4 separate regions of the Homo sapiens genome follow, and regions 1, 2 and 4 are each linked to region 3. Evidence: fine-mapped expression QTL. A gene starts in region 3. Each other region holds a variant in brackets. All regions are shown on one strand. Distances are from middle to middle.

What was found. PIP is the estimated chance that this variant, and not a neighbour inherited with it, causes the effect.
Region 1: its variant is the best candidate, but not a certain one, in a credible set for the expression of TMOD3 in whole blood (TOPMed, PIP 0.72).
Region 2: its variant is the best candidate, but not a certain one, in a credible set for the expression of TMOD3 in monocytes after Pam3CSK4 (Quach 2016, PIP 0.63).
Region 4: its variant is the best candidate, but not a certain one, in a credible set for the expression of TMOD3 in blood mononuclear cells (TOPMed, PIP 0.86).

Annotation. Positions count from the first base shown.
Region 1 is chr15:51,981,329-51,984,015 of GRCh38, forward strand. It overlaps a transcript of MAPK6 not described here. Among named protein-coding and RNA genes, the nearest start is that of LEO1, 11 kb to the left of the region's middle. The variant G/A (reference allele first, on the strand shown) is at 1,369.
Region 2 is chr15:51,893,837-51,896,523 of GRCh38, forward strand. It overlaps TMOD3 (tropomodulin 3), which reads left to right. Exons shown (of 10, transcript NM_014547.5): 6 at 1-109; 7 at 2,583-2,687. Among named protein-coding and RNA genes, the nearest start is that of TMOD3, 66 kb to the left of the region's middle. The variant CT/C (reference allele first, on the strand shown) is at 1,380.
Region 3 is chr15:51,828,165-51,830,851 of GRCh38, forward strand. It overlaps TMOD3 (tropomodulin 3), which reads left to right and starts at 1,489. Exons shown (of 10, transcript NM_014547.5): 1 at 1,489-1,672. RefSeq lists silencers at 1,394-1,548, 1,769-2,048.
Region 4 is chr15:51,930,149-51,932,835 of GRCh38, forward strand. The region is part of intron 1 of LOC112268148 (a long non-coding RNA gene); the gene reads left to right. Among named protein-coding and RNA genes, the nearest start is that of LEO1, 40 kb to the right of the region's middle. The variant G/A (reference allele first, on the strand shown) is at 1,277.

The DNA.
Region 1 (2,687 bases), 150 kb after region 3:
CGCGTGTGGTGGCGGGCGCCTGTAGTCCCAGCTACTCCGGAGGCTGAGGCAGGAGAATGGCATGAATGGGAGGCCGAAGCTTGCAGTGAGCCGAGATCGTGCCACTGCAGTCCAGCCTGGGTGACAGAGCGAGACTCCGTCTCAAAAAAAAAAAAGAAAAAGAAAAAAAAGAAAATTCAGACTTATGTGAAGAAAAAAAGAACAGAATAAAGGTAATGAGTCAGAAATTATTTCTTAGGACAGAAGCAAAGTTTGTCCTTTTGGAACCTTTTAAATATAGGGTTGGGTTTAGGAACCCGCTTCCTGGAATAGATAGACTTTAGACTCCTTCCTGAAGCTTGAGGGTTACCAGAGAGCTATGTCCTAAAAAGACCTTTGCAGCAGGCAGGATGAGGTCAGCGTACTCAACACCAGAGCAGGAACAACTACTGGAGGAAAGAATCAGAAGGAACAAAGAAAGGAGGATGGGGTACGGAGGGTGCTGTGGGTGTTAGTGGAGGAAGCTGAATAAGAAAAACGATATGCAGAAAAGATATCAAAGAAACTGAAAATGAGAAGTATAAGGAAGGAAAGAAAGGACGGAAAAAAATAGATTAAGAATACAAAGGGAAAGGAGTGACAGAAGGGGATGGAAAAATAATTTTTTAAGGCACATAATAAAATAGTACTGAGGTGGGGAAATATTGAAACAAAAATGTGAAAACATCCCAACAGCACAAACACAGAGACAGAGAGAAACATCAGGAAATGTAGACTTCCCTGCCAACCAAAATTTTACAAATAGAAAGGAACCACTAAAACAGATCCGGCTCAAACACAAAGCAAAACTGAAAATTTCACTTTACAGCAAAACTGCTCTGATTAGATCTTTCACTGGATTTCCTTATCCAACTGGCTGATTTAGAATCGTGTGAGAACACAGCATAACTGCAGAGATACTATCTCGTCGGCGGGTGGGGACTGCTGGCACGCAGGCTGCATCTGGCCCTCAGTATATTTCATCTCACCCACAGAGGACTACCAAGAGGAGATAATGCTGAATTTCATGCTTGCAATGGCAAAAAAGCATTGCAGTATTAACATCCTTAACAGTAATATGGCAAAAGGCCACAAGATGGTGATGGTATACCCTAAAGAGATCTCAATCATATGTAAAATGAGGTACACACACATACACACTCACACATACACTATACACTTACTAATTTTTCTTTAGAAAGAAAATGTCCTGTGTTGGTGGTGGTGAAGGAGGTCTTAGATAAGAGGAGACTTGAAGAATACTGCCTTTAGATAGCAATCAAAACACTTCTTATGATAAAATGAGGCAGTGTTTTTTCGTGTTTTTCCCAAGTAAAAAAAAATAAAAAA[G/A]GTATTTTTCAGACTAGAAAACACTAAGAAAATATTTTTCAACTATAGGCACTCTGATTTGTATGCATCTGCTGATAAAGTAATCATTTATATAAAGTAACTGTTACCTTTTAAGGAAATTTTTAAATTTTTTCTTGGGCTCCATAAGATGAAATTTCCCTAAAGAATCCAGTGAAGATTTTACTTCCTTGACTGCAGTTTATTTCCTTACTCAATGAGGAAATGACAGGCAGGATTAATTCCTTTCTTTAAATGGGTGTGACATTTTAGGTTAATCATGATTCATAGTGATGTATGGATAAGTTTAACTTTCAGATGTGCAAACACACATGTACACACTTTTTATCTGCTACTTAACACAAAATCAAAATTTGGGTAGGAAAATGGGTTAGAATCCTGGGCCTAAAATGTCAGAAAGAAGTAACTAATAGGAAAACAGCCAAAAAATATCCCAGGGTCATAAATTTCTATTTGCAAAAACAATATTAACCTTTAGAATTTTTTTTTAGGTTGGGCGTGGTGCCTCATGCCTGTAATCCCAGCACTTTGGGAGGCCAAGGTGGGCAGATCACCTGAGGTCGGGAGTTCGAGACCAGCCTGACCAACATGGAGAAACCCCGTATGTACTAAAAATACAAAATTAGCTGGAAGTGGTGGCCTGTAATCCCAGCTACTCAGAGGCTGAGGCAGGAGAATCACTTGGACCCAGGAGGCGGAGGATGCAGTGAGCAGAGATCACGCCATTGCACTCCAGCCTGGGCAACAACAGCGAAACTCCGTCTCAAAACAAGCAAACAAAAAACGACAACAACAAAAAAAAACAGGACAACAGGGCTGATGTGGTGGCTCTTGCTTGGAATCCCAGCACTTTGGGAGGCCTAGGTGGGTGGATTGCTTGAGCCCAGCAGTTGGAGACCAGCCTGGGCAACATACCAAGACACTGTCTCTATAAAAAAATTTAAAAATTAGCTGGCATGGCACATGCCTGTAGTCCCAGCTACTTTGGAGGTTGAGGTGGGAGGATCACTTGAGCCTGGGAGGTTGAGGATGCAGTGAGCCATGATCATGCCACTGCACTCCAGCCTAGGTGACAGAGCAAGATTTTAATAATAATTATTACTAAAATAATAATAAGACAGCCTTTTGAAAGGGCAATTTGGTATTATCTATCTAAACTGTAAATGGCTATACTCTTTGATTAAATATTTCCATGTCTAAGTTCAAGGCTGCAGTGAACTATGATTATGCCACTTCACTCTAGTCTGGGTGAAAGAGCAAGATACTGTCTCATTAAAAAAAAAAAATCCAGTCTAGAAATT
Region 2 (2,687 bases), 66 kb after region 3:
TCTTCCGGTATTTGATGAGCCACCAAATCCAACCAATGTAGAAGAGAGTTTGAAGAGAACTAAAGAAAACGATGCTCATCTTGTTGAAGTTAATTTGAATAATATAAAGGTAAGTGTGCTAATCAGAGTGGTTTTGTATTGCTTTGAGTTAGTTGAACCTAGGATGAGAGCTGGGCAGTTGATAAAATAGTCTAATTCTTTCTACTTTAACGTAAAGTTTTTGCTCTTACCAGTATGCTAACATAGGTTTCTTCATATTTTAGATATTGAAGTATTATGGTATAGTATTTTCTAACTTGCTTTTTGAAGAATTTATCATCTAAAAATGTAAACCCTACAAACTGTCAGAATAAATCTCAGGTTTTCTAAATACTGCCCACTTCTAAGAACATTTAGCCTCTTGGGTCTTGCTTTTTTAAAATTCGGTTCCTTAGCCAGGTATGGTGGTGCATGCCTGTAATCCCAGCTACTTGGGAGACTGAGGCTGGAGGATGGCTTGAGCCCAAAAGTTTGAGACCAGCCTGGGCAACATAGTGAGACCTGCCACTGTCCCATCTCAAAAAATAAAATAAAACCTGTTTTTTTGAGGTAAAATTTAAATATGGTAAAATTCTCCCTTTTAGTGTCCAGTTCTATGAATTTTGACAGGTGCATACAATTTTGTACAACCACCATTACACTCAAGATATAGAATATATCTGTCACCGCAAAAGTTCTCTCATACCCCTTTGTAGTCATTCTCTGACCCCCAGCTCTAGCCCCTGACAACCACTGACCTATTTTCTTTCCCTATTATTTTGCCTTCTCCAGAATGTCATATAAATTGAATCCTATAGTATGTAGCCTTTTGGGTCTGGCTTCTTAGCATAATACATTTGAGATTGATTCATGGTGAGTGTGTCAGATACGCTGCAGTTTGTTTATCTGTTCATCAGTTGGAAGACATATGGGTTCCTTCCAGTTTGGGATGTTTATTAATACAGCCACTATATACTTTTCACACACAGGTTTTTGTGTGAACATGTTTTAAATTCTCTTGAGTAAACACCTAGGAATAGGCTTTCTGGGATCTTATTTTGAGTTTTAAACAATGCAACTCTTCCTTGGAGTAAGGAAAGAAGAAATTAGGAGGACATGGGGTAATTAATTACCAAAAAGTAAACTCAAATTATCTAGATATTAGCCATTGTGTAATGGCTTCATTATAAATTCCTCATTTTAAAACTTGATTTTTTTGAAGTCGAGGACAAGTGGAGGAGAGCATCTGGAAATCTTGAGCCTAGGGAAGGAAGCTTCTGTGCTCCTCTAGGGAGTGATCCTTCCTGTGAGTAGAGGAAGGAAAGCCTCAGAGAAAGCTTATATTCATAGTTGATTACTAA[CT/C]TTTTTTTTTTTTTTTTTGAGACAGAGTCTTGCTCTGTTGCCCAGGCTGGAGTGCAGTGGTGCGATCTTGGCTCACTGCAACCTCTGCCCTGCCCCAGGTTCAAGCAATTCTTGTGTCTCAGCCTCCTGAATACCTGGGATTACAGGCATCCACCACCACACCTGGCTAATTTTTGTATTTTTAGTAGAGATGGGGTTTCACCATGTTGGCCAGGCTGGTTTTGAACTCCTGACCTCAAGTGATTCGCCCACCTTGGCCTCCCAAACTGCTGGGATTACAGGTGTGAGCCACTGCGCCCGGCCTATTTTTATTTTTTTTAATTTGGTCCCTGTGTATCCCTTTCTCTAAATAAACAGTAATCATCTGAAAATAACCAGGCTAGGGGGAATTGAAGTCTCAAGATACTACTGAGAGAAACCAGCATCTTCAGTATTTTCTCTCCTTCAAGTAGTGTAGGGTTAATCTCTCTTAGTGCTTTGTAGCTTAAACTAAGTGACTGAGAACAGTCTGTCTGCCTCAGGAATCGTACTCATCAGAGATGGACTCCTTCATTTCTTTCCTTGTAGAAAAGTAAATCCACTTTTATTTTCATATAAAAAGAATAATGAAGGCTGGGTGCAGTGACTCATGCCTGTAATCCCAGCACTTTGGGAGGCCGAGGAGGGTGGATCACCTGAGGTCAGGAGTTCGGGACCAGCCTGACCAACATGATGAAACCCCATCTCTCCTAAAAATACAAAATTAGCTGGACCTGGTGGTGCATGCCTGTAATCTCAGCTACTTGGGAGGCTGAGGCAGGAGGGTTGCTTAAACCTGGGAGATAGAGGTTGCAGTGAGCTGAGATTGCGCCGTTGCACTCCAACCTGGGCAACAAGAGCAAAACTCTGTCTCAAAATACATAAATAAATAAAAGGAATAATGAAAGGTGAGAATAATGAGAATTTTTTTTAACCTAAATGCTAGAGAAATGGTGATATGTGCTCTGCTCTGAGTCAGTAGTTTATGCAAATGCTCCATCGTAGATAAGTCAGATAATTATGGAGGAAGCTGCATTATTTGTATTCATTTGTAGACTAATTCTTAGGTGTTTGTATAATTTCTGAATACATTTTAAAGCAAAAAAAACCATATATTTGATTAATGGAAACTAAATATAATGAAAATTGAAATGTAATGATGTTTTATGTTATTGTCTTTCAAGAATATCCCAATTCCAACCCTAAAAGATTTTGCAAAGGCTTTGGAAACCAACACACATGTGAAATGTTTCAGTCTTGCAGCCACCCGGAGCAATGACCCTGTTGCT
Region 3 (2,687 bases):
GAACCTGAATTCTGTAGGAAATTGCTCTCAGAAAGCTGTTATCTCCAAGAGATTGACCCAAAGATGGTATAGAAAATAAAATGCAATGGCCACAAGATTGAGTGTTGACTGTCCTCTAAGTATTTGCAATTGAGAAGGGTTTTTTCCTGGCCAAGCACGGTGGCTCACGCCTGTAATCCCAGCACTTTGGGAGGCCAAGGTGGGCAGATCATGAGGTCAAGAGTTCAAGACCAGAATGGCCAACATGGTGAAAACCCATCTCTACTAGGACTACAAAAATTAGCTGGGTGTGGTGGCACGTGCCTGTAATCCCAGCTACTTGGGAGGCTGAGACAAGAGAATCACTTAAACCTGGGAGGCAGAGGTTGCAGTGAGCCGAGATCACACCACTGCACTTTAGCCTGGGCGGCAGAACAAGACTCTGTCTTGGAAAAAAAAAAAGAAGGGTTTTTTTCCCTTAAAAACCTAAACCATCAGTGATCTCCATTGCTGAAATTAGTGGGTGCCAGTTGCATGAAATTCCAGGATGTTTATCTAACCTAGGGTCCTCCCTCCTCTGAGGGGAAGAAGTAGATGCCAGGAGAGGTTTAAACCATGAAGTGGCTCGCACACTGGGTGTAGCTGGAATGTACCTCAAGCAGGCACGTCAGTCCACTTCTTTGGCTGCATTTTTGAAAGGTGTGTCAAAGTTTAGCATTATTCCTGGGGATGGTCTACTCCTGAAGAGCAGGCCAGGAAAATTCCCAGTAAGTGACTAAATGAATAAATGGAAAAATGTCGCAGTTCCCTCTCCTCAGAGCCTCGCACAAAAGGTAGCCATTACATAGGCCACTGTCAAACAGTCCTCTGAGAGATTCCCACACTCTTCCTCTTCCCTCTAGACTACCCATCTGCCCCAATCCCCCCCTTGAGCAGCCTATTCTGTTTTTTCTCCCACTACAGCAGCCAGCCCCACCGCCTGGTGTAGAGCTTGAAGATGGAAAGGGAAGATAGGATGGGCAGAAACTGCCCTGCAATAGCTACATCATCCCCGAAACGCATACCTAAGAAAACCACTAAGGTCACCACACCCTGGAGGTGACATTCGCATGATTTATGCCTCTCTTGGGCTTTAGATTTTATTCCTTTACTTTTCTATAACTCTGTCATGACCAGTTTAAAGGCCCCAATGTCATGTCCTCGCATTAACAACCAAGGCTACAATGCAAGCCCTGCCATGTGCGCTTCTTTACAAAAGGTCAAAGTAAAAAGGAAATCTATACCAAAGAGCCTCTAGATACTATTTCCAGCTTCGGGGAAGTCCATAGTAGGTACTTCCACGGGTAGAGAACATTATCTTAGACTGGGATAAGGGTTGGTATTCGCAGTCCCCTTCCTACGTTCTGCCCATTGTAAAGACCAGGGTCAGCGTTGAGCCTCGCCCTTCTTGCTAGAACTACAACTCCCAGGATGCCCCGCGGCACGGGAGTGCGCACGCGCGTCGGAGGCGAAGGAGGAACCCACCGCACCTACAGGGCGGTCGAGTGAGGGAGCTGCTGGCGGGTGGGTCTGGCAACTCTTTGGGAGGCCGACGCGGGCGGACCGGCGGGTGCTGGGAACCGAGCCTCGGCTTGCGGCCGGCAGTTTCCGTGGGTCTGTGAAGAGGTCGGCGGCCCCTGCGGGCGCCAGTCAGGTAAGCCCAGCCCGGTGCTTTCCAGGAAGTCCGTCTGCGGGCGCGGGTAGGGAGTCGCACCGGCCATGGTGGCTGAGGAGGGAGAGGTTGCTGCCCGCCGGCCGCCCGACTCCAGGCTCCTTCCCGACGGGTCCGTCTCGGGGAGCAGGGGTGCGCGGGGGCTGCTTCTGCGCGAACGGCCCGGGCGGGGGACGTGGGGCGCGCTGGGCGTCGCCCGCCGGTCTAGGCGCGCGAACCTGGCGTTCCCAGTGAATCACCCGCGGCCCGGGCGCCCGGGTTCGGGACCGGCCCCCTCCCCTCCCGCTGAGCCGCGGCCGAGCTGGCTCCCTGCACCCTACCCAGCGTCGCCGGGACGCGATCACACCGAGATGGCACCGAGCCTCCTTCAAAGGCTTCGGCTTGTTGAAAGTGGGGCGGCGGAGTGGGGGAGCCAAAACTTAGGGCACACCCTTTTTGTGATTGAAATGTGGCTGCCCTTGCATTCACCGGTTTGATCTGTCTGCTCTTAGAATTAAGTTCCTAGCTCCCAGGCAGCACAGCTGGATCCGGCTGGGAAGTTTGTGTGTTAGTTTGTTTTGAGGACGTGACTGTGTCGTTATATTTTTGCTTGCGGGGGATGGTGTGTTTCCTCCGCAAGCCTGCATTCTGATTACAAACAGAAATGGGAAACAGCCACAGTTTCTTTTTTTCTTTTTAATGTTTAGTTAAGAATCGCATTTCCAACTTGCCCTTGGCCTCTGTTAAAACCAAAAGTCATCTGGCAATGAACACTGCAGTAAAACTTACCCCAGGAGGCCATACTTCAACAGGAAATAAGCCTGTGGAGATTTAAGTTAGTTATGTGCAGCCTCCCTTGGTTTGTAACATTTTCATGCAGCTCATGTCTCCTCTCCTTTTCTGAGAAACCTTCAGATTAATTTTTTTGGCAGATTAAATTGATTAATTGGCCCGTCAAAAATATATTAGGCTTGGAAAAATAGCTTTGCCAAGTCTCATTTACTCTTGCTAGTTTCTT
Region 4 (2,687 bases), 100 kb after region 3:
AGAAGTATGAAATTATTCACCCCATCAATACTAGACAACTATTAAAATCAGAATATCAGCATAGCTCATGCTTCTTGTCATAGGCTTGAATAAGAAAAAACTTTAAATCAAAGGTTTTTATATTACATATTAATTATATTTTTATATTATTTTATATTAGTCTAGCCCCTAAAGTTTGGCATCACCCTTATTCTGGGTAGTTCCTTCTGTGCCTTCTTATATCCAGAAATTCCCAATATAGCTAAGAAAGTCACCTATTCATCAGATGTTCAGCTATCCACGTCCTCTCTCAACATGAGAAAGACAGATTCATCAGCCTCTGAAGCTTTCTTTTTTAGCTTTGAATAATGGGATTGGTTGATATTGGTGATCGTACTTACAATCAGCTGTCCTGGAATAGGTGGTTGATTGCCCTCATCACTCTCAGAAGAAACGTCGTCTATATCTCCAAACAGATCCATGGTCCCACTAGGATCTTCGGTGTTGGGGGGAAATGCACAGTATTAATTTTTCCAACTAAAGTTCTTTACACAGTTAGTTCTTGGTCCACCACTTCAACATAGTCCAAAGATTCATAAGCCAAATCTCCACTAAACCAACCTCAAACTGGCTCCCTAAGCCAGGTTCTCAGAAGCTTAACTAACTAGCGTGTCTTTGGAGAAAGGAGGAGGCAGAGTTGGTGGGTGAAAGGTAATCACTGTGGCAGCCAGCTTTCAAGGTTCCTGCCCATCCTAGTGATTCCTGCCTCTGGTTTCCATGCCCTTGTGTGGTCTCCTCCAACACTGTGTCATGATTGATCTATGTGATCAGCAGAATACAACCTGTATTCGAGATGAGGCTATGAAAGACACTGGCTTTTCTGTCTTGCTCTTTCTGTCTTAGGTCACTTGCTCTGGGGAAAGCCACCTGCCATGCCGTGAGGACATTCAAACTGCCTATGGAGAGGTCCACATAGTGAAAAACTAAGGCCCCTGCCAAAACCCATGTGAGCCATCTTGGAAACAGATCCTTCAGCCCTAGGCAAGCCCTTAGATAATGTAGTGCCAGCCAACATCTTGACAGCAGCCTGCAAGAGACTCTGAGTTAGAAACAACCAGCGAAGCCATTCCTGAATTCCTAATCCTCAGAATCAGCATGATAATAGTAAATGCTTATTGTAAGTGCTGAGTTTGAGAGTGATTTGTTTTTATGTTTTTTTTTTTCTTTTTTTTTTTTTTTTTTTTTTGAGACAGGGTCTCACTTCGTCAACCAGGCTAGAGTACAATGGTGCGATCTC[G/A]GCTCACTGCAACCTCTGCCTCCCAGGTTCAAGCAATTCTTCTGCCTCAGCCTCCCAAGTAGCTGGGACTGTAGACACACACCACCATGCCCGGCTAATTTTTGAATTTTTAGTAGAAACAGGGTTTCACCATGTTGGTCAGGCTGATCTGAAACTACTGTCTTCAAGTGATCCACCCGCCATGGCCTCCCAAAGTGCTGGGATTACAGGTTTGAGCCACTGTGCCCGACCAGTTCTTTAGAGAAGTTTTACTAGTGTTTACCCTTTAAAAAGCTTAAGGTTCTATAAAAATGTTACGAACCTTTCCTAAATTCCTGGCTTTTAAAAGTGATGCATCCATAAGTGAGCCTAAGTACACAAACTTGTGGCATCAGGAGCCAGGGCCAAAATGTGTGCATTACTAGAACATGAAAAGCACCATTGCTTAGGGCTATCTTCCTAGTTACAATGTCTGAGTCATGGCCAGATGTGGTGGCTCATGCCTGTAATCCCAGCACTCTGGGAGGCTGAGGTGGGTGGATCACCTGAGGTCAGGAGTTGAGACCAGGCTGGTCAACATGGCGAAACCCTATCTTTACCAAACTTACAAAAATTAGGCAGGCGTAGTGGCACATGCCTGTAATCCCAGCTACTCAGGAGGCTGAGGCACGAGAATTGCTTGAACCCAGGAGGTGGAGGTTGCAGTGAGCCGAGATGCAGAGCGAGACTCCGTCTCAAAAAAAAAAAAAAAAAATTGCAAGTCAGTAAGTTAGTGAATAGCTAGATGCATAATTTGTACAATTTTATAAAGTTTAAGAAAAAGACATTTGCAATGGAGTTATGCTGACTCTTTTCCCTTGTTTGAATCCCCCAAACTGTCACAAAGTATATTTGATGGTAGCTTTGATTGTGATTGTGGCTGTCTAACAAAGACATCTGTTAACCAACACCTGCCAGGGCTCCCGGCTGAAATATGTAGCAACAAAGGAGCAAAATTCTGAACCAAAACAGAAAGAGTGCTTAACAGCATTTCACAACAGTGCTGCTCAGGACCAGCCCAACACTGAATGTATCTGCACTGTGCAAGAATGTTCATAGAAGCCTATGTTGTCCATATTTATCCACAATTGTGTCATATCTTTTTTTATTTTTTATTTTATTTTATTTTTTGAGACGGTGTCTCACTCTGTCGCCCAGGCTGGAGTGCAGTGGCACGATCTTGGCTCACTGCAAGCTCCACCTCCTGGGTTCAAGCAATTCTCCTGCCTCAGCCTCCGTAGCAGCTGGGATTACAGGCACCTGCCACCACACACAGCTAATTTTTGTGTTTTTAGTAGAGACGGGGTTTCACCATGTTGACCAGGCTGGTCCTGAACTGCTGACCTCAAGTAATCCACCTTCCTCGGCCTCCCAAAGTGCTGGGATTACAGGT